7 linked regions of the Homo sapiens genome follow. The protein of the gene in region 7 purifies or fractionates together with the protein of the main gene of each other region. This does not show direct contact. Each region holds a gene or a part of one and is shown on either strand. Other genes may lie near its edges. The genes, in order: AMD1, TGFBR3, RAD51B, XPR1, DENND11, CD109 and DKKL1.

Region 1 (3,500 bases), on a different chromosome or scaffold from region 7:
CGTTCCATGGCTGAACTAAACAGTGTAACAGTCTTTTCCTTTCTTATTTTTGTTTTCTCTTTTTTTAAAGGCTGTTGTGGCCAGGCACTGTGGTTCAGAGGCCAAGAAGGAAGGATCACGAGACCAGAAGTTCAAGACCAGCCTGGGCAACATAGCAATAGCCAGTCTCTTAAAAAGAAAAAAGGCAGCTGGGAGTGGTGGTGCAGGTCTGTAGTCCCAGCTACTCGGTAGGCTGATGTGGGAAGTTTGCTTGAGCCCAGGAGATGGAGGGTGCAGTGAACCATGATCACACCGCTACACTCCAGCCAGGGTAACAGAGCAAGACCCTCTCTTAAAACAAAGTATTCACCCTTACAACTTGTAGCACAGATACTTTAAAGTCTTGGTCCATGTCACCTTGAGGTTGGTGTCTGCTGTCTTTTCCTTTGAGATGTTAAGATTTTCCTGGTTTTGAGTATGTTGACTAATTTAGGATGGCATCCTGGATATTTTGACATGTTACATCATTCTAGGTCTTGATTTTTAAAAACTTTCAGCAGACAATCTGGTTTGGTTTAGGCTTCAAGTTTTTACTCAATGTTTCTAGGTTGTGTTATGGTTCCAGTGTCAGGTTTGTTATGAACTCCTTTGCTATGTTATTTGCATCTGCCCCACTTATTTGCCACCCAATGGCCAGGCTGGCCCTGGAGAGGCAGTCTATTGTGTATTCTAGTTTTCAAAGCCTCTGATGTGCTGTTTAGGGTCAGATCCATGCAAAATGGCTAAGGAGTGTTCATATAAAACTTTATAGGTTTACTTTCTTCAACCTTCCATAATCTCTCTGACAATGCCTGACTCACATAGGGGATAGGGGAAGGACTCTTCTTCATCCACTACCTATAAAAATAGGGCTTTGGCCGGGCGCAGTGGCTCACGCCTGTAATCCCAGCACTCTGGGAGGCAGGAGGATCACAAGGTCAGGAGATCAAGACCATCCTGGCTAACAAGGTGAAACCCCGTCTCTACTAAAAATAAAAAAAAAAAAAATTAGCTGGGCATGGTGGCGGGCACCTGTAGTCCCAGCTACTTGGGTGGCTGCGGCGGGAGAATGGCATGAACCCGGAAGGCGGAGCTTGCAGTGAGCCGAGATCGTGTCACTGCACTCCAGCCCTGGCTACAGAGCAAGACTCTGTCTCAAAAACAAACAACAAACAAAAAATGATTCCCTTCTCTCGTTGTTTTAGACATCTGCCTAACTGCCACAGCTGCTAAAGGCCTACAAGAGGATTGGGGCAGAATAGAACAAAACAAAAGCAAAAAAGAGATTTCTTCCACTCTGATTCAAAGGGGCCTCTCATTCTTTCTTTGCAGAGGAGAACTAGAGAGCCTTTCTTGGAACTATTTTTGCCTGCCCCTACTTTTCAGTTCTGGGTTTCTGGCAAGCCCAGGAGAAATCAGCGAGGAGATACCACAGGGGAAAAAAAACAGGAAATTCACTGCTGGTTCAGTGGAATTTAAAGTTCTGGCTTTCTTCTCCATTTCACCTGCTAAAATTTACTTCTCAGAGTCCTTGGATAGCTGCTCAACAATGCATTCTGTCCAGGGTTTATTAATTGCATTTTAATAAGAGAAGACAGTGTAGCATGCTTCTTCTGTAATGGCAGAGAAATAACCTTTTGTTTTCTGAGCCAGTCTCACTGTCACCCAGGCTGGAGAACAATGGCACAATCACAGCTCACTGCAGCCTTGGCCTCCCATGCTCAAAGAGATCCTCCCACCTCAGCCTCCCAAGTAGCTGGGACCACAGGGCATGTATCACTACACCTTACTAATATATTTTTAATTGTTTTGTAGAGATGAGGTCTCCCTATGTTGCCCAGGTTGGTCTCAAACTCCTGGGCTAATGAGATCCTCCCATCTCAGCTTCCCAAAGTGCTAGGATTATAGGCACGTGCCAACCCATTGGCTTCAAAATGCTCTTATACTCACTCATCATCAGTTAATAAAATTCTCCATTCAAACCTTTCCTCAACTAATAGTAATGCTCCGGTAATCAGAATTTTTCAATCATAGTATCAAAAGAAAGCAATTACTTTAAGCAACCTAGGACAAACAGTTAAACTGTCTATCAACCTAGTGATGATAAAGGCATTTACCAGAGCTACTAAGCTCAAGAAAAATAAATCAGAGGGCAAAATAGACGAAAGAAAAAAGTAGTCAATACAATGCTATACATGTACATAAAAGAGGTGAAAAACTCTGCAACAGCTGAAAATTTCAGCACAAATTATTTCTATCACATTTCTGTGGGAAAAAATGGCCTGCTTTTGTAAATAAAGCTCTACTGGAACCTAGCCACACCCATTCATTTATACATTGACTATGGTTATTTTCTCCCTATAAGGGCAGAGCTGAGTAATTGCAACAGACTGTCTGCCTTGCAAAATTTAAAATTTACTCCCTAGTCCTTTACAGAAAGTTTGCTGACTCTTGTTTTGGAGGAAAGGTTTTCAGTGGTCTGCTTTCTGATCAAATTAATGATGGAAAAGACAAAGTGCTTTATACAGTCGACAGAGCCATTTTTAAAATTAGGTTGCAGTGAGCCAAGATCGTGCCACTGCACACCAGCCTGGGCGACAGAGTGAGACTGTGTGTCAAAAATAGAAAAGATAGTATTAAGCTAGAATGTTTTATCAGGCTCAGTAGTGATAGTGGTCTTGTCTCTGCTTCACTCCCAAGTACACTACAAACTGAGACTTTGAAGCACTAGTCTATTATAAACTATTTATAAAACTGATCTATTTGGCAATCCTTGCTATTTAAAGAGTCAATAAATCAAATTGATGGATATAAAGCAGAATCAAGAGAAGCAAGATAGCAAGATGATTTTGGGATTTGTTCACATTACAGCTCACGTAATACTGATCTAGTCATTAGAAATTATTATAAAGCTATTCAAGCACACAATTTTTTTTTTTTTTGAGATGCAGTCTTGTTCTGTCACCTAGGCTGGAGTGCAGTGGTATGCTATCAGCTCACTGCAAACTCCGCCTCCCAGGTTCAAGCAAGTCTCCTGCCCCAGCCTCCCGAGTAGTTGGGACTGATTACAGGCATCTGCCACCATGTCAGGCTAATTTTTTTTTTGTATTTTTAGTAGAGAAGGTGTTTCACCATGCTGGCCAGGCTGGTCTCGAACTCCTGACCTCAAGCAATCCACCCGCCTCGGCCTCCCAAAGTGCTGGGATTTGGGATTACAGGCATGCACCACCATGCCTGGCCCGAAGCACACAATTCTTAGGTGGTTATAAAACACAAAGAAATATGTAGATTGAGTATTTCCTGATTTGAATTCCTTTTTCTCATCTTAAATGCCACCTCTCTGATCTAACTCAGTGGTTCTCAACTTGTAGTAATTTTGCCACCCAGAAGACATGTGGCAACATTTGGAGACATTTTTTATCACAACTGGGGTGGTGGTGGTGTTGCCAGCATGCAGTGGATAGAGGCCAGGGACACTGCTA
Region 2 (3,500 bases), on a different chromosome or scaffold from region 7:
TTGCAGATCTCCCCTATCAAATGCATTCCACCAAGGTCAAATGGTTCTGCTTTTTGTTATGGCAATAGAACATTCAATCTGGAGAGTGACAGGAGGCAAATATGATGAACTGATATGAAACTGAGAAAAGCTAAAATATTTGTTAGTTTCCCCTAGAAGTCTCCCTGAGACAAGTCAACCTTATATTTCACACAGAAAAGGTTAAAAAACAATGACAATGCCAGTCCCAGCAGGACCTGGAAAAATTAATTCTCACAATGAACTTGTCCTTTCGGCTTGCTGTGTTTTTGGCCTGCAAACTATCTGAAAAGCAAAGATAAAGCCAGAAATCTCCCTCCATGGAAAAGCGTCTTGATTTATCACTCGTAAGGTACTACTAAGTAGCACGCATGGAAAAAAGAAACTCATGCTGTCAGGATTTATTATCTAAGACTCCATAAAACTCACAGTTCCCTGCTAATAGTGACTTTAATATTTCAGTTGGGCAGTTCCAAAACAAAAAACCTCAACCTGCAAGACCTTGGGATTAAACTTTTCTGCCTCACCTAAAAATGCCAAAATAACCATCCGAATGGATGAAGGCCCACAAACCTTAGGCAACTTCTGGGGGTGCTTCTCCATCTTCGTACACAGCGTCAGCTCACACTGTAGAAAGAGCAGTGAGGTGTTGAAGACAGGCTTGAAGACAAAGCTGAATCGCTTCTTATCCATGTCAGCTTGCGGGATAGGAAAGTGCACTCTCTTGGGACTGTAGAATTTCACAGATTCATCTTTAGGACAAATATTCTCAATAATGGTGTAATGAGACATCCTATCAGGGTTCGAATATGGAGAGATAAAGCACGTTTGGATGGCAAATCCCAGTTCTTGTTCAGCCTTAGTAACAGATACCTATGAAAGAACAGAAAGATGAATTAGGAAATGAGTTAGCATCTCACTTTCACTTTAGGCACAAGGACCATATGCCAAGACAGCCCTTCAGATGACACGCTGCTTTATCTTCATAACATAGTTATAGCCTTCTTTCTAATTACAAAAGTAACACACACACATTGAAAGAAAAAGATATTTTCCACTTCAATTTGATATAGATGATGACAGTGAATTATTTCTTTCAAATATTAGTCCATTAGATTCAAATACAAGATGAGTAAGTCTCTTCCACCTCCCAATGAGTCCTCTGAGAGCTAAAAATAAAAACATATTTTGCATTTAAAGTGGATTTTCCGAAGTAAATAAAACACCAGTAGGCAAAGTCCCTAATGTTTTAATAGTACAACACTTATAAGCTAAGCTCTTTTTAAAGACTGACCAAAAAATAGAGTTCAGCGGCAAAATCTATTTAACCTAGGCAGGAAGACTGAGCTTCTAAATTGCAAAAAGTCAGAGTAAGCCTGATGAGAGTCCTGCTTCATCGGCGAGAAGGCAGAGCTGGCTCCGGCGCTGGGTGTCAGTGACGGTGCAACCTGGAGGCCATCATGGGCCTGGTAAAGTGTCCCAGCTGCTCACAGATCCAAATCAGCCTTGCCAAGTACTCCCCCTTCGCTCCATAAGCCCAGGGGTAGTTTAGGGGAAATCTAATCTGGAAACGTTTCCGACTCATTTATACTTCCCCCTTTGAAAACACTTGTATGGGCTACGTCCAAATTTTGTTAAGGTTCTTTTCCTTAGAAACAGGAAGTAATGTTTAGCCAAGTGTAAACAGAATTCAAACCTCAACTATCCTGAACTTAGCTAAAATCCCCAGACCAGAGGAGATTCTCCATTTGGTGACACGTGGATCACTGCATGAACTGCCCCTCCCTGCTATGCCTCATTCTTTGACTAAATTTAGGATCAAAATAAACTTAAACACTTGTAGAAACAGCTAGTCCTTACCCATAGACCAACAGCCGCAGAATCATTTCAAAAGACATGGAGATAGAAACAGACTTTCCACGCTGAGATACCCAGGGGAAACCCCTGACATCACATGGGGCTTTGAATCCGCAGCACTGTTGTGAAAGATTCCTACGTGGTGGTTAACTGCAGGACACTCAACAGTGAAAATGCTAATGAAGAGGATTCTGATAATGTCACTGTGGTGACATTCTGTAAATACTAACACTTCAGTATTTTTGCAATACTTCTGAAAAACAAGATATTCTATCTTGGAAAGGTGGCAAATTACATATGTGCTATTACTAAAAACTGCCGTTTAACATGAACTCAGAAACCACATGCCAAAATGTGTAACAGAGGGACTGCAAATCTCTTCTCTAATCTCAAAAGAAAGTATGTAGCGGCAGAATGTCTAAGGTATCCCAAAAAGGGATACCTTTGTAGCAGAGGGAAAAAATATATATTATTTTTTAATATATTTTATGTATATATAGTTTATATATATAAATTATCAGCAAATCTTTTACTAAAAAGGATTTTACTTTTAGACCAGAAGTGAGTAGGAGAAGGACTACGGGCTTTGTAGTGAGACGAGCTCATAAAAATTACATGCTCTCCTGCTCACGTGCTGGGCACCGAGACTCAGTTTACTCACCTACAGAATGAGAACACGAATACCCACAAGATATCATAATTGTGAAAACTAGCAAAGTAAAAGTTACATGCAAACAACACAGTTCCCAGAGTGTCAATAAATGCTACCTATTAGTAATAGTAGTATTCTAGATTTAAAATTTTGGGTTATTAACAACTGGGTTTGTAAATTCCCCAAGACAAATGAACCAAAAGAAAACTGCCATTATGTGACCAACAGTCACCTGGAGATGACCAATGAACAGGTGGCAACACTGTTAACTTGGATTATGAAAGGGACTGTATGGTGTAGAGGGAATAGAGGATAAACTATGAGAAATATAGGTGATATATGAAAAGGTATAAATGGGAAAACAAGAATGGAAAAAAAAAACTACCAATAACACACTTCAAGTAAGCCAGCATTTGAAGGATGGGGGAAAAAACCCAAAATATCCAGGGTAAGGTACAGGAGGAAGATTGACCACTGATTAGCATAAATCAGCAAAGCCAGGCATAGATTTGGAAAAGAACAATCTGCAATTATGCAGCACCCCTGAAATCCACAGCGCAATAGGGTGCTGTTGACCAACTGCCCATGTGAACTGTACAGCCAGAAAAGCAAGAGAAAAACAGCCATCTTGGCTTAGGAAAAGCATGTAGAAGGCAGTATATTTTCCCCAATGGAGAAAGAAGGTGTGCTCAAAGAAAGAGAACTCTCAGAATGGGGGAGGGGCAGAATCCATATGATCAAGGAAAACAACATCTAGCGCCAGCGGGCTCTGTCCCAGAGTCAGTGCGAATGTGAGAGTTATGTGTCTTTCCAAAACAGAAACACGTGCACCAAAGTCACTTTTAACATATGGAAGTACCCCACTTTGACCCTTTAAGCTTCTCACCCCTCCCACTATGAAGCTGAGCTTGCAGCTGAGCACCAAAACCAGCTCATTAGATGAGGACCTTCCCATAAGACCAACAGATGATAT
Region 3 (3,500 bases), on a different chromosome or scaffold from region 7:
ATTTAGCTAGGAAAATTCCAACATTTTCTAAAGGAAATATTTTTCAAAATCCTTTTAAAACCAATCTTACAATCTTAATTGTCACAAAAAACAGATATCACAGTTATATAAGTACATAGTATAATCTGCATTTATTTCTAAATAGAGAAACAAAGCCAAAGGCATAGAAATGGGATATTCAGTACCTATTTTTTCAGAGGGTTCTATTAAAAACAAAGAAAAGCAGTGCCCCTTTCTCACTTGGGAAAATAAATCACCTTAGGAAAAACTGAAAAGCATTAGCCTACAGTTACTACTTAAAAGCAAACAAACACAACATTTAAAAAGTGAATTTTATTTTGCACGGAATTAAGTCAAGCAACAGTATGAATTAATAATAAAATAAGAATATATAGTCATCCCCCTGTATCCATGGGGGATTGGTTCCAGGACTCCTCTGCAGATACCATAATCCACGGATGCTCAAGTCCCTCATATAAAATGGTGCAGTGTTTGCACATAATCTATGTACATTCTCTGGTATACTTTAAATCAACTTTACATTACTTATAATACCCAATACAATGTACATGCTATGTAAATCTCTGCTTAACTATAGGGAATCATGACAAGAAAAAAGTCTGTACATGTTCAGTACAAAGACAACTATCCTTTTCTTTTCTTTCAAATATATATATATATTTTTAGAGAGAGGGTCTCACTCTGTCTCCCAGGCTGAAGTGCAGTGACATGAACATGGCTCAATGCAACCTCAACCTCCTGCGCCTAAGTGATCCTCCCACCTCAGCCTCTTGAGTAGCTGAGACTGCAGGGGCACACTACCACACCCATTGCTTTTTCAAATATCTCCTATCTTTAGTTGGTTGAATCCATGGATGCAGAACCCACAGATACAGAGGGCCAACTATATACATAACTTTCTATTCAATCAAGTATCTTTATACAGTATTTCAAAGTTCCCTTATTCTCCTTGATCAGGAAAAATATAAATTTGAATTTATCATTTTAACCAACTACAATAAAATGTAAAAGATGAACATCACCCAAGACAAACTTAACAGCACTTGACTTTAATTCAAAATATAAACTAAAAAGCCATTAAAGTATGCAGAACTTTTTGAATGTCATATTTTCTCCCTTGACTTCTTCCTTGGTTTTATAAACCTCAAAGGCTGTGTGATAGTTTATATTATTTATACATATTCTTTATGTTGCAAAGATCCAAGATTTTAATTTTCCAAAAACAAATCTAAAAATTATAAAATCATAACCAAATTTTATCTCAGTTTAAGGAACTATCTTTTCTTGAGATGAAGCATGACTAAAATTGAGAAGCCTGAATGTTGATGAGGCTGTGGAACAACGACTAAAACTCCCTGACACACTGCAGATGGGAGTGTAACTTAGTACACACTTACGTCTTGCAGGTTACACATCACAAGCCCTTGTAATAGCCTGTCATCTTCAGATTTCTGATCACAATGCCCGCTACAAAAAGCCATGCCACAAATAATCTTTCAAGGTTTTCTTACTGACACTTTCATTACTATCATTCCAACATCTCTTAATGGTTGACCTCTGACCATTTGAAGCAAACCAAATCCTATTGTACACAAAACAGCGCTGAACACAATAACACAGTATCTAAACCTAAAATACTTAAAACAAAACTAACAACAACTGCAGTATTTTTTTTAATTATATAGAAATAGATCTAGGCAATTTCATGAAGTTTTACTACTTTATATTTACTGCAGTGTGAGAAATGTGATACAAAGCACACACAAAGAGTAAACAATGAGAAGGAAGAAAAGGAGGGACTATAGGAACTTTTAAAAACATCGTTTAAATCTACTCCAGACTCAAATTATTAAAATAATAAAATAATCTCAGCAGATGAGCTAATTTAAGATGATGGCGATGTTTGCTATAGCAATTAGACTGTACTACCTTTAAAAAGTCATCTGTTTTACATTTTCCTCTAATTTTATTATTTGATACCATAAGTCAGTGAATGTAATATAAAAGAAACAAAAGAAAGGAAAAGAAAAAAGAGAAAAAAAGAAAAACTTACTGGGATTGAAAACTCCTCAGCCAAATACTTCAAGGAGGATGCCTCTCTTGCCAAGAACTTGTTTCTTTCTTTGAGATTGCCTTGAAGTTGTGCATCAAACTCCTTTCTGACCACAGAAGCAACAGAGTCAAGAATCACAAGTTTAATTCCTTTTGAGATAATTTCTTCTTCCAAAGATTCAATCCTATAAAAGAAGAATTTATAAAATAGTCAATAAATTTAAGATAAAATAAATAAATAAAGGTATTGCAAAGGCTAAGCAACTTAAAAACAATAAACTATTCTTTCCTAAGTTACAGTAATGATTTGCAAGAATTCAGTAAACCTAACTTGTAGACATATCATACTTTTCTGGAAACAGAGCAAACTGTTTCTGTGTAGTTTCAGAATTCCTTGATTCTCCTAAGATAATGTTAACGCTCCAATTCTGGGGTAAAACTACTTGTGGTAGCCAGTCTGCAAAATGGCCCACACTTACTCCCTCCTCTTGGTATTTTGCATCCTTGTATAGGTCCCTCCCACAGTGTGCCAGACTTGATCTGTATGACCACAAGCATATGACAAGATCATGGTACCTTATTTCTGAGTGTGGGTTATAAAAGACTACAGCTTCCATCTTGGGTACTCTTTCACTTGCCCAGTCTCTCAGGTCACTTACTCTGAGGAAAGCAACTTGCTATGTTGTGATTTATGGAGAGGCCCAGACGGTAAGGAACAAAGGTCTCTTGCCCACTGCCAGCAAGAAACAGAGGGCTTCCAACAACTATATTAGGGAGCTTGGAAGCAGGTACTCCAGCTCCAGTCAAGCCTTAAGATAACTGCAGCCCTGGCCACCAGCTTGACTATAACCTCTTGAGCGACATTGAGCCAGAAACACCCAGCTAAGCTACTCCCAGACACTTAACCCTCAGAAACTATGTGAAATAATATGTATTTGCTGTTTTAAGCTACTAAACTGTGAGACAATTTGTTAATGAAACAATAGATAAATAATACACCACTTAATTAATTAAATACAGAACATTTTATTCATTTAATTTTTTTTGTTTTTCAAGAAAGACTTCAACCAAAAGGCTATAACAAAGAAGAACACTGAAAAAGTTACTCCACATAATTCTAACCTATAAAGACTTTTTTCACTTAGAAGCTGAAACATAAAAGATAAAACATAAACCTTCAACGCATTACTAAAAAATCAAAATCTAAAGCAGCATACCTTTGTAGAACTTCATCACAGGTGAGTTCCCGATAAAGATGAACTTTACTACTTGTCAAAAGTAACTTTTCTTCAGTGTTAAAATATCTGGGAAAACGGGATTCTGCTATTTCAACCAGTCTGTGGGTGAAAAAAATAGCACAAACGAAAACAGTCAATTCTACTTAAAGCCACATTGCTGAATCTCTAATTAATTTTACTTGAGAAACT
Region 4 (3,758 bases), on a different chromosome or scaffold from region 7:
AGAGTTTGTGGCACCAAAGTAAGATGAAAGGCTTTGATGCTTTAGTCAATAAATTATTTTTCCCTTTGCATTGTGGGTATATTCATCTTAGGGTCAGTTAATTTTGTAATCTTTCCTAGATATATATAAGGAATAATAATTAGTCCAGGAATTCTGCAGAAAAGTCCTATGTTCCCTCACAGGGCATGGGTATGCAGTGATAGCAGTGTCCACCTCTCCAAAATGTAATTGGACACATCATTTCACCTCATATTTGTAATATTTGAGATTCTTTGTGCGAGTAAAAGAAAGATTTGTTACAACAATCCCATTGCTTTAGAGTCACACCTCACATATTACCTGAAGATAAAAGCCATTTAAACTTCTTTTAACTTAGTAGGATAGTTTAAAAATTTCACCACTGTAGTCTGTTTGCCCTAACCCCATATGAAAATTAGTCCTAAGGGGAACTATGTTCAGGAATTCAAGAAACCAAGAGAGAAAAACAGTCACACAAACCATTCACCAGTGACAAAGGAGTCAGCAAACTGTTGGAAAACAGAGAGAAATTGTAATAATGAAAAAAGGACAGAGTTTAGTGACCAATCACTTATTTTCTTTAAAAACACATAACCACATTAACTTTTTGCTTTATACAACCATCTAGAAACTATAAAACAGTACCACATTGTGCATTTAACCTACTTATCAAGAAGGGAACTTCATAAGTCATAAGAATTCTACCCATATAGGAAGGAAAAAGGAGACAGCTAATAGCATAGTCACAGATACAACATGAGTCCAAGCAAGCATCAATTCTTCGACATCACCTTTTCCATTTACCAGAGTGGAGACTGAGAAAGAGAGTGAGGGAGAAAAAAGAGGGAAGGAAGCACCCACAGAGGACTAATCACAATCCATAGTTACTTTTGACAACTATAGCTCAGGGTTTCATAGAATAGTATCATTTGACCAACACAGTGTGGTGGAGGGAGAGGGGTGAAGGAAACACAAATAGAAGGAGAGAGTTTGAACAGAAAAATACAATTTTCCCCCTATTCCCCTCCTAAATACTCTTCATTGATACAAGCTTCTGTGCTAATCCAGAAAATGGCAAGAAATTAATCTTCACAACGTGATTAAGAGTTCTGTTCTTTTTGTAATTGAAATGTGAGTGGCTCACAATTTTACAATTCAAAATAACGTCATGAACAATGACCCTTTAGGGATTTTCCACAATCTTTCCCTCCAATTCCCACCATGCTGGTGTTGCTACAGGGCAATCAGGGAAGTGCAGGTAGGGACTTCAGAGATAATGATCAAGGGATAGTGAGATGGAAGCCTGGCTCTTTCTTAGAAGTCCACAACTTTCTAGAAGTACTGCAGTCTTTCCCTCTGATTTGTGGTGGCACAGAGGAAAGGGCATAGGAAGAACTAAGGTAATATGGTGGAAGTTTAGTCAAGTAACTGGTTTGAAGGTATACGAGACTGTGTACTTAGTAGATATACTGAATCCAAGGCAAACAATAGGTTATTTGATTGTCCTCCTTAGGTTGATGGCACCATACAAAAAACTGAGGGTGGCTTTGATTTGACGATAAAATAAACCAAAGGTTTGCTACAAGGAAACATACTTCAGTTGCAAAGTTGTATAATGATTCTCCTCACTTTAAGGGAAACTCTCATCTTGTTCTCACTTCCTCTTCCACCATAAATAAGCAAACATATTCTGGAAGGCTGTTTTCTAGGGGCAACTCAGTATCAGTTTTGATAATTCATACAAGAAAGGCATCATGAGCCATGCCAATCAACAGGCTCCTCTCTGTTCTCAGGCAAACTTCCTGTATGGACTACCTTAGGCTCTTCCAAACCTAATGAGATGTTTTTACTTTTTCATATTTGGAGAGTATGCTGGTTAGATCATTGGTTTGTAACACCAACCAGTGCAAATTTCTCATGCTATCATATAATCAACTCTGTCCCACATTACCATGTGCTCTAACATTGTATAGACTTAAAATACAATGCAGAAAGTTGAGAGTTTGTAGGATTTACTATCAAGACTGACTTCTGAAATGCAGAAACGTATGTGTTTGCATTTAGAAAACCTTTAACACTCCTTGTCTTAGCTAATGATCACAAGCAAGAAAAATTTAGATCACTCAGAAAAAGAATATGAACAAAGCTGATAAATTGGATTTATTCTTCTTTACCTAACTTTTGCAGAAGTTCTACCAAAGCTTCAATTGTCTTCACCTGGTCACTAGAGACCGTATCTGTAATGACACTGAATTCCTATTAGATTTGAGAAAAGTGTGGTGATTTTGTAGTTGAGAGAGCTACAAATTCAACTTTCTTTTTTTCTCTCAGAAGCTATCTCAATTTTAAAAACTCAAATGTTATACAGTAAGAGGTACTTGTTTTTTGAGAGGAAAATTTCATGTAAACCATTAAAAGAAAACAATAATGACCTGAAATCTGCTTACCAGATTTGTATCCCACATTTTAAAACAATGCCACAGATAGGGTTATTTTCTTAATTATTTTCCTTAGAATAAGAAATTTTTGTGGTCACTGCTTAGAAAACTGCATTTGGGAATAAATAATTATTTCCTGAATAATGCAAAGTAATGGGGAAAAGATGATAGGAAAATAAAGGCAGGTCTTTCCCAGCAATTTAATAACCACTAAGCGGACAGATGGAGGCATCACCTTCGCGTCATCAGGCTCACGTACTTTCCTAACTGCCTTGCTGCGGCTTACTGCCAACGTCCAACATCTTCTTGCTCTTCTCTGCTATCTCCAAAGTTATTTCACTTATCTTCAATGAATGTCTGTTAATCTGATACCTGCATGACTCAATACTACTTTACTTTTTTCTGTTCTTACCTTGCCGTAGTTCACCTATCCAGAAATGGATGATCTGCTTTCTCTAGTTACTGTGAATGTACTTTGGTCAAAGCATGGTGGAAAGATAATATACATCAACACGTTACTTCTGGTAAAGAGCTCAGTTAAAGTCACAGAACTCTCATGTTTAGAATATCAGGAAGTCAGGGATCCTAGGGGCTGGGGCCCATTTTCCTTCTTTAAACGGTTTTTATAAGTTACTACTGAGGTGAATGGTGTTCTCCCACACCTTTGCTTCTGACGGAAGTTAAGCAGCTTGCCTAAGGAGCCTAATGGTAGAGTGCTGAAAAAAAGTTGCACATGGGTTTTTGACTACTTTCCAATCTTACAAATGACCATCATAACCTAATGATTTAATCTTTGATTTCATTGTTTCTCTGTATGCTATGAAATCACCAATTACGCCACTGTAATGGTATAGGCAGCCTTAAATATAGGCACTCATTTGTGCATAGACAGTAAACCACTCTTGTCTTTTAATTTCTCTACACACATCAATGCTTTCTATACTACCATAAAATGAAAAATGAGTTTTATTCATTTATTTAGACTTCCTCTTCATTCCTTTGAGGACTATTTTAATTGATATTAAAAACTGAGTGATTCTCCAAAATAAAACTAGAATTTCTAAACCTAAAATCAAATGAAGTTTGTATTTGGTTAGGTTGCTGCTCCTTTAAAATGAGTCTGTGATTTTTTTTGTTTGTTTTTGAGATGGAGTCTTGCTCTGTTGCCCAGGCAGTGGCAGTGGAGTGCAGTGGCATGATCTAGTCTCACTGCAACCTCTGCTTCCCAGGTTTAAGCAATTCTCCTGCCTCAGTCTCCTGAGTAGCTGGGATTACAGGCATGCGCCACCACGCCCAGCTAAT
Region 5 (3,500 bases), on a different chromosome or scaffold from region 7:
AACTATTGCGGCTTTGCATAAACAAAGATCATGTACCTGTCAAAAAATGACTTAATTTTAAAAAGTGATGGTAGTATTAAATCCAAACTGAAGGCAGAATATACCCCAGCTTTCATTATAGAGTGAAGACTCATCATGCAGGACGTTGGCTGAAACGAAAGGACACCACCCGAGGCGTGAAACATCGCCATGGATGTTCTTGGAAAGACATCTGCTGCTCTGGCACGCAAATGCTGTCTCCGAGGGCTCGTGCCATATGCACCAGCTGGTGGATCCTGCTGCCTCCCTGCACATGTACGGAAGCCACGTACCGAACCTGGTTCTCCAAGAAGTGCATGTAGCGGTAAAGCAGTGTGTAGGAGGGAGAGAGGATGCCCACAGACTTCATCCGCGCGCCACGTTCCAGCTCGCTCTCCACGGGCATGTTGGCAAAGCAGGCCAGGCCGAAGAAGGGCCCCTTTCGGAAATAGCTAGAAGAGACCAAATACGTAGTGTGGCTCAAGATCAGAGAGGAATTTTGAGATGCAATCCTAAACAAAACAAATGAACTGTGTTCGGGGCTGTCAATGACAAAGCTCAGCCTCAAGAAAACAAGCGGGCCAAGCCACATGACCTCACTGATGAGCTTGAAGAGATTACATAACTTGCCAAGGGTCACTTGGCTGGAGCTGGGACTTAGTCCGTGGCAAGCCTGCCGCTCAGCTGCCCACAATCATGGACACATCTCTTCTCTCCTGCACCACGACTAATGACTTGGATGGGTGAAGCAGAACCAACATTCCTCTTCAGGCTCCTCTGGAACTTGGACTCTCTTTCGTAGCATAAACCACAGTGATTCTTCCCTTACTTCCTGAGGCTCTGATATTTTTCACTGAGCTGCCATTTTATTTCCTCCTCTTCTCACACTTGTATCAATCATGAATTAAGCCCCATGAGGAGATTAAAGCCACTTCATTACCCTTAAGCTCTTTCCATTGTTCCTTCTCGCAAAACTCTCTGAATGCCCCACTACACAGGACTAAAAAATGGCCTTACTTAAAGCTGAAATTTCAAGGTTGAACACATAGATATCCTCAGTTAACTCACACGGGGCTGAAACTGTGCACTTTCATTAAAACCAAACCTCAAGTGAGGTCCATGTAATTTCTGAGAAAGTGAGAGAACCTCTACAGGCAGGGATTCTTAAGATTTGCAGGTCATGAAGCCCATTGAGAATCTGATGAAAGCTAGACATCTCACTAGAAAAATGATGTAAACACAAAACTATCCATGTATTTTCAAGGCATTTACACACAGCACACGAAGACCTCCTAATAAGAGCCCTTCAGCTTTGGGGAAAGTGTGGAGGTGGGGGGAATGGTACGAAGATGACTCCAGTTCAGAAGTACTTACATGAAATCAGATTGGATTTTATGGGACCCACTGGCCATAGACTTGAACTCAACACCTTCAAGGTCAATATCTTGAGGTAAGCACCATTCTACCATGTTTCCTGCAGGAAAAGGAAGATGCAAGTTAAAAGAAACAACATCATTCAAAGAAAATGGGTTAGTACAGGGCTTAGCACACATGGCTTTTCAATAAACCGACTGCTGACTCAGCCTCAGACAGACCAGCGAGATGCTCAGAGCTCAGCCCCTCCATCACTGGCAGGGGTGACGCCGGAGGACGTGGAGGTGGACACTAAAAGAACCTCCCATTTCTGCCCTCAAACACTGTTCTCCTCCCTCATGAGGATGCTGCGTTTGCTTCTGTCATTCTGCTCAACCACTTCCAAATCTGCTTTTTGTAGCCTCACTTCTCTGCATGTTTTTTTAACCTTCCACCCTCATTTCCTTATCTTGTGTTCTCCCCTTAATCCCTTGAGATCTTGATTCTATCTATAGCCACTAATGACTGGGAAAAAATCCCAAAACATTTTTTAAATTCTCATTCTCGTTTACCTCTAGGTAGCATTTGCTAATTCCTCAAACATTTCTCCTCTTTTTCCTGGATTTTCATGATAGAATACTATTTTAGTGCTTTTCCTACCTCTCTGACCAATGTAACTCTGTTTCCCCTCCTCTCTCTCTCCTCTCTAAGTGAGGTCCTTCTTCAAGGGACAATGATATTTGCTTCCAGAATTTTGGGACTCATTCACTCATCATTGATTATTCAGTTTCTCCTGAGCTAGATGCTGGAGATACAAAGTCCCTGACCTCAGTGAGATTAGATTCCAGAGAGAAATGAGGAGAGCTAGAGGAGATCAGCAGTTACAGTGCAGTGGGATCAATGTTATGACAGAGGATAAGGTGCGATTTTTTTTTTTTTTTCTCGAGACTGAGTTTCACTTTGTCGCCCAGGCTGGAGTGCAGTGGCACAATCTCGGGTCACTGCAAGCTCCACCTCCCAGGTTCAAGGCGATTCTCCTGCCTCAGCCTCCCACGTAGCTGGGATTACAGGCGCATACCAGCACACTCGGCTAATTTTTTTTTTTTTTTTTTTTGAGACAGAGTCTTGCTCTTGTCACCCAGGCTGGAGTGCAGTGGCGCGATCTCGGCTCAATGCAAGCTCCGCCTCCCAGGTTCATGCCATTCTCCCGCCTCAGCCTCCCCAGTAGCTGGGACTACAGGCACCTGCCACCAGGCCCGGCTAATTTTTTGTATTTTTAGTGGAGACGGGGTTTCACCATGTTAGCCAGGATGGTCTCAATCTCCTGACCTTGTGATCCGCCCACCTCAGCCTCCCAAAGTGCTGGGATTACAGGCGTGAGCCACCGCACCCGGCCATGCCCAGCTATTTTTTTTGTATTTTTAGTAGAGATGGGGTTTCACCAAGTTGCCCAGGCTGGTCTTCAACTCCTGACCTCAGGTGATCCACCTGCCTCGGCCTCCCAAAGTGTTGGGATTACAGGTGTGAGCCACCGCTCTAGGCCAAAGTAGGATTTTAAAAGTACAAGCATGCCTCGGGCTGCGGGAATCAGGGAACTACACAATAGCAGTGTTATCTAGAGTCTTGAGAGAACACTATAGAATACTCCCTGTTGTTTTCATGCATATTCAAAAGGGTTTAAAGCAAAACACTAAGCTATTTGTGAGATTTCATTTCAGAACAAACTTCTTATTAACACTCCAAATCCTAATTTGCTAGGCATTAGAAAAACCATCAATGATCCCAGCCAAACAACGCTTTCAGATAATTGTTCAGGGCATCAGGGAATACACAATCTAGTCTCAGGACATGGTAGATATCATAGAGCATTGTCGAATCTCACACTCAACAGCCCAAGTCACTTTCAAATAGTTTATTTTCAAAAGAGGAATTATGATTCTGATCATTTAGTCAATTCACTAAAGTGAAAAGCATGAAAAAGGAATTAAGAGTTCATAAAGCAGAAAGCCTCGAACAATGTTATGTTTGTCAGGGTCAAAGATAAGAAAAAGCACTCAGAAAGAAAGAGGGGTGACCTTGGGGATAAGACGAGTTTTTTAAGCACCAAGTTCCCCCACGCTTTCCTATAT
Region 6 (3,500 bases), on a different chromosome or scaffold from region 7:
CTTCCTACCTCTCTTTCTGCATCCTCTCAGTGTCCTTTTCAGTTCCTCTTTCCTCTCCCTAAATGTGGGAATTTTGGACATCTGTTCTTCTCCCTTCCTCCAAGGTCTCAGCAATCCTATTGCTTAGCTTGTCATCTCTGTGATTGTACCCTAAAGCCAAAATTCCCATCCTTGCCCTTCTCTGGAGTTCATGCCCAACACCTCCAGTTACCTGCAGGAAATTTCTACTTGGATATCCTGGACACCTTGAATTCACATATCTAAAATGAGCAACCATGTCATTTTCCTATTTTCGCTAACATCAGGATTTTGCAAGACTTTACATTTCTGAATTTTCCCTCCCTCTCCCCACCCCCCAAATCCAATGAACACCAAAGTCCTATGCTTCTCTCTTCCATCCTCTCCACTCCCACAGCTACCACCACAAGGCTGCCCATCCCCTCACTCCTGGGCTACAGCCATCCTCCTGCACACAGCCTGAGCAGTCTCCCTCAAACACTACCTGAGTGCACCCCGAAATTGCCAGCCAGACCTCTCCTTCTTGTCTCACTTCTTATCTTGCTCCCCACCTCCCACTCCCATGCCCAAGCATTTAAAACACAACTAATCTTTTAAAAAACAGTTTAGACCATCCTCTTCCATAAAGCATCCCATAGTAACCCCCATGCCTATCCCACAGCCAACTCTCCCCCTCTGAACGCCCATGGTTTCACTCTACTCATTCAGAAATTACCATTTGCAGCCTCAATTTTTTAAACTGACCTTTTCAAACTGCCTAAATTAAGATCATTGAAATCAGAAACTACCTGAAACGTCTACCGACCCATTCAACAAGTGACCCCTCCATTCTTTCTTTGTCGTTTTAGTTGTTTTTTTTTTTTTTTTTGAAATGGAGTTCCACTTTTGTTGCCCAGGCTGGAGTGCAATGGCGCAATCTCCACTCACCACAACCTCCGCCTCCCGGGTTCAAGCGATTCTTCTGCCTCAGCCTCCCGAGTAGTTGGAATTACAGGCATGTGCCACCACGCCCGCCTAATTTTTTGTGTTTTTAGTGGAGATGGGGTTTCTCCATGTTGGTCAGGCTGGTCTCGAACTCCTAACCTCAGGTGATCCGCCTGCCTCGGCCTCCCAAAGTGCTGGGATTACAGGCATGAGCCACCACGCCAGGCCTGACTCCTCCTTTCTTTAAATCAGAGATCAGCCAACTACTGCAAGCTGATAGGCCAATCCAGTATGTTTGTAAACAAAGTTTTACTGGAACACATTCCACTCTCACTTATTTATAAATTGGCTATGGCTGCTTTCACACTACAATGGCAGGGCTGAGTAGCTGTGACAAAGACCACATGGCCACAAAGCTGAAAATATTTACTCTCTAGCCCTTTGCAGAAAAAGTTTGGCAACCCCTGCTTTAAATCCCTACAGAAATTAATTTGTAACACTAATCTTAATCTGCCATGAGTTATAGTTAAGTATATATTTTCCTGTCACCATCACAAAAACTGTGAACCTGAGGGTAGGGACTGAGCCCTTCTTGGCTCTATAGCCCTGCCCAACACCATGCCTTGCTCATTGTCAACATTCACACAATTAATGTGTTAATTCAACATTATCTCCAAAAAATGAGATTTGTTGATAATTTTTTAATGTAACATCTTTGTTAGAACTACAATTAATCATTATAAAAACCAAATTGAAATTGAAATTTTTGACTACCATGTAATTATTTCAATTAATTAATAAAAGCTTCAGTGTAGCAATCCACATCTAACTTAAATTGCTTGTAAAAAAAAATACATTTTCAAAAAATATTTTTACTGTTGTTGAAAACTACTTTTTTAGAAAAAATAGACAAAGGTCATTTGGAAACAAATCTACATGCCCCACATGTCTAAAGAGACAAAGTTATATACTTTTTGGCTTAAATTTTTAGAAAAGCATTGAAAATATTATTTCCCATTCTATTTCATTAAGCTGAACTTACTGCTATGGACTGGAAATAAATATACCAACTTACAGTGGCTGTGAAGTTGAGAGATGGCTTCAAGACAGTAGTATAATCAAAAAACTCAATGATGTAATCATGTTGCTTGAAGAACACATTAGTGCTTACATTTCTTGAAATACCTTTTTTGGAAATTGCACAATTTAGAAAGCAAAAGTAATGTTTCACCCAAAGCTTCTATCCACCAAATCTCTCCATCTAACCTATTGCAAAAAGGGTTAAAAATATCAGGGCACATAAGCCTCATTCCCATATTGACTTTGACACTACAAGCACCACACAGTTCTATTATGTTCTCTATGGATCCCCTCTAAGCACCATTGCTGCCATTCTACCGCAGTGACATGTACAACAGCAGCAAATTAAGGCCAATGAAAGAATAGTCTTTTGCTCTTTCAGGGATTGGCTAAAGTTGTTGAAATAGTAACAGAAAGGTCCAAGAAACTCAACTTTATTTTCTTATTAAAAGTGAAAACTGTCTAGGAACAGCTGAGATTTCAGTGATTTTAAAAAGAAGAAGGTTACCAGCTGAAAATGTAAGCCTTTCCATGTAGTTTTCAGGGGGAAAGAGTAGAAATGGAAAAAAAAATTAAGAAGAGCTATCACATGTGGTTGAAGTAGTGACTTTCATAGAAAATAAGGTCCCCCTTATAAAATCATCCTGCAACTTAGACTAACAGTCATAACAATTTCAACATTAAATAGCATCTTTAGAAAGTCAATGATGCTCCCAAATGAAAGTGCCAGTTATAATAAGAAAGATGATAAAGCAGTGTCACATGAATAGTTTTACCTCCACTTTAAAGTCTACAAACCTGTAACTGATTCTGTCACTGTGGTTAAAATTTCTACTGGTCCAGGGGAAGATAGATCCAGGTATTCAGAAAGTCCATTTGAAGAATCCATTACATTTTTCATCTCTTCATCATTAAAAGAGAAGTTTGCAGATCCATTTATCTGTTTTGTTTAAAAGTTCAGTATTATTTACCATTTTAGCAATTCAAATTTTAGAAATAAAACTCAAACTAAGTCACAACAATATGATAGCTCTGGTACCATTTTAATCGCTATAATTGCATAAATTCTCATTTGTTCAATGCTGGAAAGCTCTTGATTTTCTTACACTTAACTTTTTGTTAATTCAGTACTAAATCTTATTTCTAGAAAAATACACATATTTTACCCATCACAAGTTATAAAGTGTCTGCAAAAGTTACCTTAAATGTTTTTGTAATATTTTTCTTCTTTCCCCAAAAGGATAAAGGTAAAAATGTAAGCGTTACGTCTCCTTTCACTGGCTTCCCATATGTATACCTGAATAATTATAAACATAGTCTTTTTATGTATCAACTTGATATTGTCAGAACACAATAAAAATACTACTTTCAATAGCATACATTAGCAATTAGCAATCTAACATTTTAAAAAATTACATTGGGCTGGGAGCGGTGGCTCACGCCTGTAATCCCAGCACTTTGGGAGGCCGAGGCGGGTG
Region 7 (4,211 bases):
GAGGGGGGGGCGGGCCCGGCCGGCGGACAGCGGGAAGGGGGATCCGACGGTGACAGTTTGGGGAAGGATTTTTGCTTTGGGAGAGATTAGTCTATCTCGGGGCTGGTAGGAACTCAGGATTTGGGTGCTTGGGAAAGGAGGGGGATTGGGGGTTCGGACTCCAAGTCGGAGGGAAAAGGCTGATAGGAGCCAGAAACCCCTGATCTGAGGGAGGAGAGGCTGGGGGCTGGGACTCCTGGGTCTGGGGGCTGGGACTCCTGGGTCTGGGAGAGGAAGCGGCTGGAGAGAGATATGGGCTCCTAGGTCTGAGAGGGGACGGGGCTAGGCGCCTGGAATCCCGGCTACCCTCGTGTTTGTGTATTGGGGGTGCGGAAGTGATACGAATACAAAGAGTCTTTACTGTTAAGCCCTGAGGTTTTTTTTCTTTTTTTCTGTTTGGTTTTTGGTTTTTTTGTTTTTTGTTTTTTTTGTTTTTTTTTTTTTTTGAGGATTGGGGTCTGGGGATGGGTTTTGACTGATTCCTATGACGACCTGGTTTCCTTGTGACCTCACCACAGTTAAGAGTCGTGGGCAGGACCACCGGGAGTTTATTGGAGGCCCACGTAGGTGCAGATTCCTCATCTACAGGCGCTAGTGGACTGGAGACGGCTGGCGGCTGTCCCGGGACGGGGAAGAGAGCTTTGGTGCCTGAGGGAAGATGGCTTAGGGCCCGGTCCCTTAAGGGTGAAAGGCTGCGTGTTCAAAATTACGGGACTAGAGGGGGCGGGAGTCCGGACCTGAGGTCCTCAGGGAAAAGGAAGTCTGATTCTGGGTTCCTTGGAAGATGAAATATAAGACTGGATTTAGGGTTTCCGGAGACAACGGGACTTTTTAGTGGAGCGGGAGCGGGAAAACCAGAAGGGACACGGAGAAAAGGTTCCGAAACAGATACACAATTAGAGTGAGAGCTAAAAGGGATGCTTGTACTCCGGTGTCTCCAGTAGGAGGAGCCTAGGACTGGAACTTGGGGTGATGAGGGCAAGATCTGGGACGCAGGGGCGTGGTCCAGTGCAGGGGCGTGGCCCAGTGCAGGGGCGTGGCTTTCAGCCAAGGGGCGTGGCCATTGCGATTGGGCGGGACTCCGAAACGAGGGCCGCAATCAGAGAACACCGCCAGGACTTCCAGGACTTGGTCTCCAGGACTGAGGTCAACTGACGTGGGCGTGGTCTGACTGTGTGGGCGTGGCCAGGGAATGAACTCACGGCTCTGGCTTAAGGGGTGTGGTGAACGAAGGATGGGGCGTGGCTGTGTCACCAAGGGCGTGGTCATGGAGTAGAGGCCCGGGCTCCTGGGTGAGGCCGGCAAGTTTGGAGCGTGGTCAGACAATAGGGGCGTGGCTACGGCTCGCGGAGCGCAACCAACGCTCTAGACCAGACCTGGGCTCGAGACCATAACTGTTTGGCTTTAACAGTACGTGGGCGGCCGGAATCCGGGAGTCCGGTGACCCGGGCTGTGGTCTAGCATAAAGGCGGAGCCCAGAAGAAGGGGCGGGGTATGGGAGAAGGTGAGGATTGAGATCTGGTGGTGAACGTGGGCGAAAGTGAGGAAAAGACCATTGGATGAGGCCGGGTGCTGTGGCTTACGCCTGCAATCCCAACACTTTGGGAGGCCCAGGTGGGCGGATCGCTTGAGATCAGGAGTTCGAGACCAGCCTGGGCAATATGTCGAAACCCTGTCTCTACAAAAAATACAAAAATTAGCCGGGCGTGGAGGCGCGCGCCTGTGGTCCCAGCTACTTCGGGGGGCTGAGGTGGGAGAATCACCTGAGCCCGGGGAGGTCGAGGCTGCAGTGAGCCGTGATTGTGCCACTGTACTCCAGCCTGGACTACAGAGTCTCGGTCTCAAAAAAAAAAAAAAAAAAGCATATGAGACAGAACCCAGAAGAGCCAGACCTGGGAGAAGACGGGGCCTGGCAAGGTGGAGGGTGTGGGAGTAGAAGAAAGAAGCAGTGGGGGAAATGAGCGCGGTGTGGGAGTTGCCTGAACTGGGGAGGCGACCTGGGCAAGGTGCTGGAGAGGGGCGTCTTGGGTGGGGGCGTGGCCACTGTGCGGGGCTCTGACCCCGACCCTTGCCACAGCCTCCCCACCTGCCCCCGCAAGGCGGCATCTGCTGGTCCTGCTGCTGCTCCTCTCTACCCTGGTGATCCCCTCCGCTGCAGCTCCTATCCATGATGCTGACGCCCAAGAGAGCTCCTTGGGTCTCACAGGCCTCCAGAGCCTACTCCAAGGCTTCAGCCGACTTTTCCTGAAAGTAAGCGATGGCGGGGGGATGGGGGAAGAAGTACTGAGAAGAGGTTCAGGGACACAGAGTGGGAGATGGTTCAGGGCCAGGCAGGGGGACAGACAGGATGAGAGGGCAACAGGGAGACCAAGAGATAGGAAGAGGGAAGGGACTGGGCCCAGGCTATAATCACAGCACTTTGGGAGGCTGAGGCAGAAGGATCATTGGAGCCCAGTACTTGGAGACCAGCCTGGGTAACATAGTGAGACCCTCATCTGTACAAAAAAATATAAAAAATAGTTGCAGGTACATGCGCCTATAATCCCAGCTGCTTGGGAGGCTGAGGCAGAAGGATCCCTTGAGCCCAGGAGGTCGAGGCTGCAGTAAGCCATGATAGCACCACTGCACTCCAGCCTGGATGACAGAACAAGGAGACCCTGTCTCTAAACAAATAAATATATACGTGCATAAATAAGAGAGGAAAGGTAACAGGCAAAGAGAGAGGAGATGGGACAGAGACAAGAGACTGGGGAAAGAGACAGGAGGAGAGGGGGATGGGGACAGAAGAGGAACAGGGATAGTAAGGCAATGGGACTGAGAATAGAGAGAGAATTCATGGGGGATGGAGGCCGGAGGTTAGGCCCTAAGTATCAGAGGGCAGAAAGTAAAGGGGATGGGAGGGACTTGGGGCAAGGCCTCGGGAGCATCCTAGCAGGGCTGCAGAAGGGGCTGTACTGAGGAGATGTGAGGTCCAGCAGCTCACCAGTCCCTCCTCCGGCCCCAGGGTAACCTGCTTCGGGGCATAGACAGCTTATTCTCTGCCCCCATGGACTTCCGGGGCCTCCCTGGGAACTACCACAAAGAGGAGAACCAGGAGCACCAGCTGGGGAACAACACCCTCTCCAGCCACCTCCAGATCGACAAGGTGCCTATGCAGGGAAGCCCTTCCTGAAGTCCCCTTGGGATCCCTCCATCCCGCCATCCCTCGTGCTGCAGTATCTGTTGGGAGGGAAGGAGGGCGGAGGAGGAAAGCAGGTTTGCTCTCACTCTCTCATCGGATCCTCACAGATGACCGACAACAAGACAGGAGAGGTGCTGATCTCCGAGAATGTGGTGGCATCCATTCAACCAGCGGAGGGGAGCTTCGAGGGTGATTTGAAGGTTAGGACGTGCCCCGCCGTCAAAGTGTCCAGGCCCAAACATTTTCTTTTTTTCTTTTTTAAAGAAGAGTCTCACTCTGTCACCCAGGCTGGAGTGCAGTGGCACGATCTTGGCTCACTGCAACCTCCGCCTCCGAAGTTCAGGCAATTCTCCTGCCTCAAGCTCCTTGGTAGCTGGGATTACAGGCACCTGCCACCACGCCCGGCTAATTTTTTGTATTTTTTTAGTAGAGACAGGGTTTCTCCATGTTGGTCAGGCTGGTCTTGAACTCCTGACCTCAAGTGATCTGCCCATCTTGGCCTTCCAAAGTGCTGGGATTACAGGCATGAGCCACCATGCCTGGTGAGGCCCTAACATTTTCTGTAGTTTAGGAGGACAAGAAGAGGAACTGACCCTCTTACTCCTCTGTGTGGAACTTCCTCCTTCTGAGCCTCAGTTTTGCCATCTCTCAAGTGGGGCAATCCAACTGTCAGAAATGAGATTTTTGACCTCAGAATACATCTGCAAGGGTTTAGTAGACCCTAGAGGGTTTTGTATCAAAGTGGTTTTCTTTTTTTTTTTTAACTACATAATAGTCAATCAAAGTGTTTCTATGAGCACCAAAATGTTTTATAAACCAAGAAGGGTTTTTAATTCTAAGTGCTTGGAAAGCTTCACCCTCATAAACCCCAAATTGTGTTTTTGTCTCAAAGTAAGTGCTCTGCAAACTTCAGAGTATTTTTCAATCTATCCCAAAGTGGTTGGTAAACCTCTCCATTATAAACTCCAAAATGTTTTTGTTGTTATTGTGG

What was found.
Region 1: the proteins of DKKL1 (region 7) and AMD1 purify together in Homo sapiens (affinity purification with mass spectrometry; 2 studies listed by BioGRID and IntAct, with this or other methods). This does not show direct contact.
Region 2: the proteins of DKKL1 (region 7) and TGFBR3 purify together in Homo sapiens (affinity purification with mass spectrometry; 2 studies listed by BioGRID and IntAct, with this or other methods). This does not show direct contact.
Region 3: the proteins of DKKL1 (region 7) and RAD51B purify together in Homo sapiens (affinity purification with mass spectrometry; 2 studies listed by BioGRID and IntAct, with this or other methods). This does not show direct contact.
Region 4: the proteins of DKKL1 (region 7) and XPR1 purify together in Homo sapiens (affinity purification with mass spectrometry; 2 studies listed by BioGRID and IntAct, with this or other methods). This does not show direct contact.
Region 5: the proteins of DKKL1 (region 7) and DENND11 purify together in Homo sapiens (co-immunoprecipitation; 3 studies listed by BioGRID and IntAct, with this or other methods). This does not show direct contact.
Region 6: the proteins of DKKL1 (region 7) and CD109 purify together in Homo sapiens (co-immunoprecipitation; 2 studies listed by BioGRID and IntAct, with this or other methods). This does not show direct contact.

The regions. Positions count from the first base shown.
Region 1 is NC_000006.12:110,881,285-110,884,784, reverse strand, and holds part of AMD1 (S-adenosylmethionine decarboxylase proenzyme), read right to left. Parts: intron 1-3,500.
Region 2 is NC_000001.11:91,711,652-91,715,151, forward strand, and holds part of TGFBR3 (transforming growth factor beta receptor type 3 isoform a precursor), read right to left. Parts: intron 892-3,500; coding exon 592-891; intron 1-591. UniProt on the Homo sapiens protein: Cell surface receptor that regulates diverse cellular processes including cell proliferation, differentiation, migration, and apoptosis.
Region 3 is NC_000014.9:67,885,779-67,889,278, reverse strand, and holds part of RAD51B (DNA repair protein RAD51 homolog 2), read right to left. Parts: intron 3,411-3,500; coding exon 3,291-3,410; intron 2,259-3,290; coding exon 2,075-2,258; intron 1-2,074. UniProt on the Homo sapiens protein: Involved in the homologous recombination repair (HRR) pathway of double-stranded DNA breaks arising during DNA replication or induced by DNA-damaging agents. May promote the assembly of presynaptic RAD51 nucleoprotein filaments.
Region 4 is NC_000001.11:180,887,022-180,890,779, reverse strand, and holds the end of XPR1 (solute carrier family 53 member 1), read right to left. Parts: 3' UTR 501-3,758; downstream 1-500. UniProt on the Homo sapiens protein: Inorganic ion transporter that mediates phosphate ion export across plasma membrane.
Region 5 is NC_000007.14:141,685,167-141,688,666, forward strand, and holds part of DENND11 (DENN domain-containing protein 11), read right to left. Parts: intron 1,493-3,500; coding exon 1,393-1,492; intron 471-1,392; coding exon 312-470; intron 1-311.
Region 6 is NC_000006.12:73,762,203-73,765,702, reverse strand, and holds part of CD109 (CD109 antigen isoform 1 preproprotein), read right to left. Parts: intron 3,320-3,500; coding exon 3,223-3,319; intron 2,963-3,222; coding exon 2,821-2,962; intron 2,128-2,820; coding exon 2,018-2,127; intron 1-2,017. UniProt on the Homo sapiens protein: Modulates negatively TGFB1 signaling in keratinocytes.
Region 7 is NC_000019.10:49,362,466-49,366,676, forward strand, and holds the start of DKKL1 (dickkopf-like protein 1 isoform 1 precursor), read left to right. Parts: upstream 1-1,411; 5' UTR 1,412-1,533; coding exon 1,534-1,543; intron 1,544-1,568; exon of another isoform or gene 1,569-1,598; coding exon of another isoform or gene 1,599-1,653; intron 1,654-2,116; coding exon 2,117-2,289; intron 2,290-3,043; coding exon 3,044-3,184; intron 3,185-3,327; coding exon 3,328-3,420; intron 3,421-4,211. UniProt on the Homo sapiens protein: Involved in fertilization by facilitating sperm penetration of the zona pellucida. May promote spermatocyte apoptosis, thereby limiting sperm production. In adults, may reduce testosterone synthesis in Leydig cells.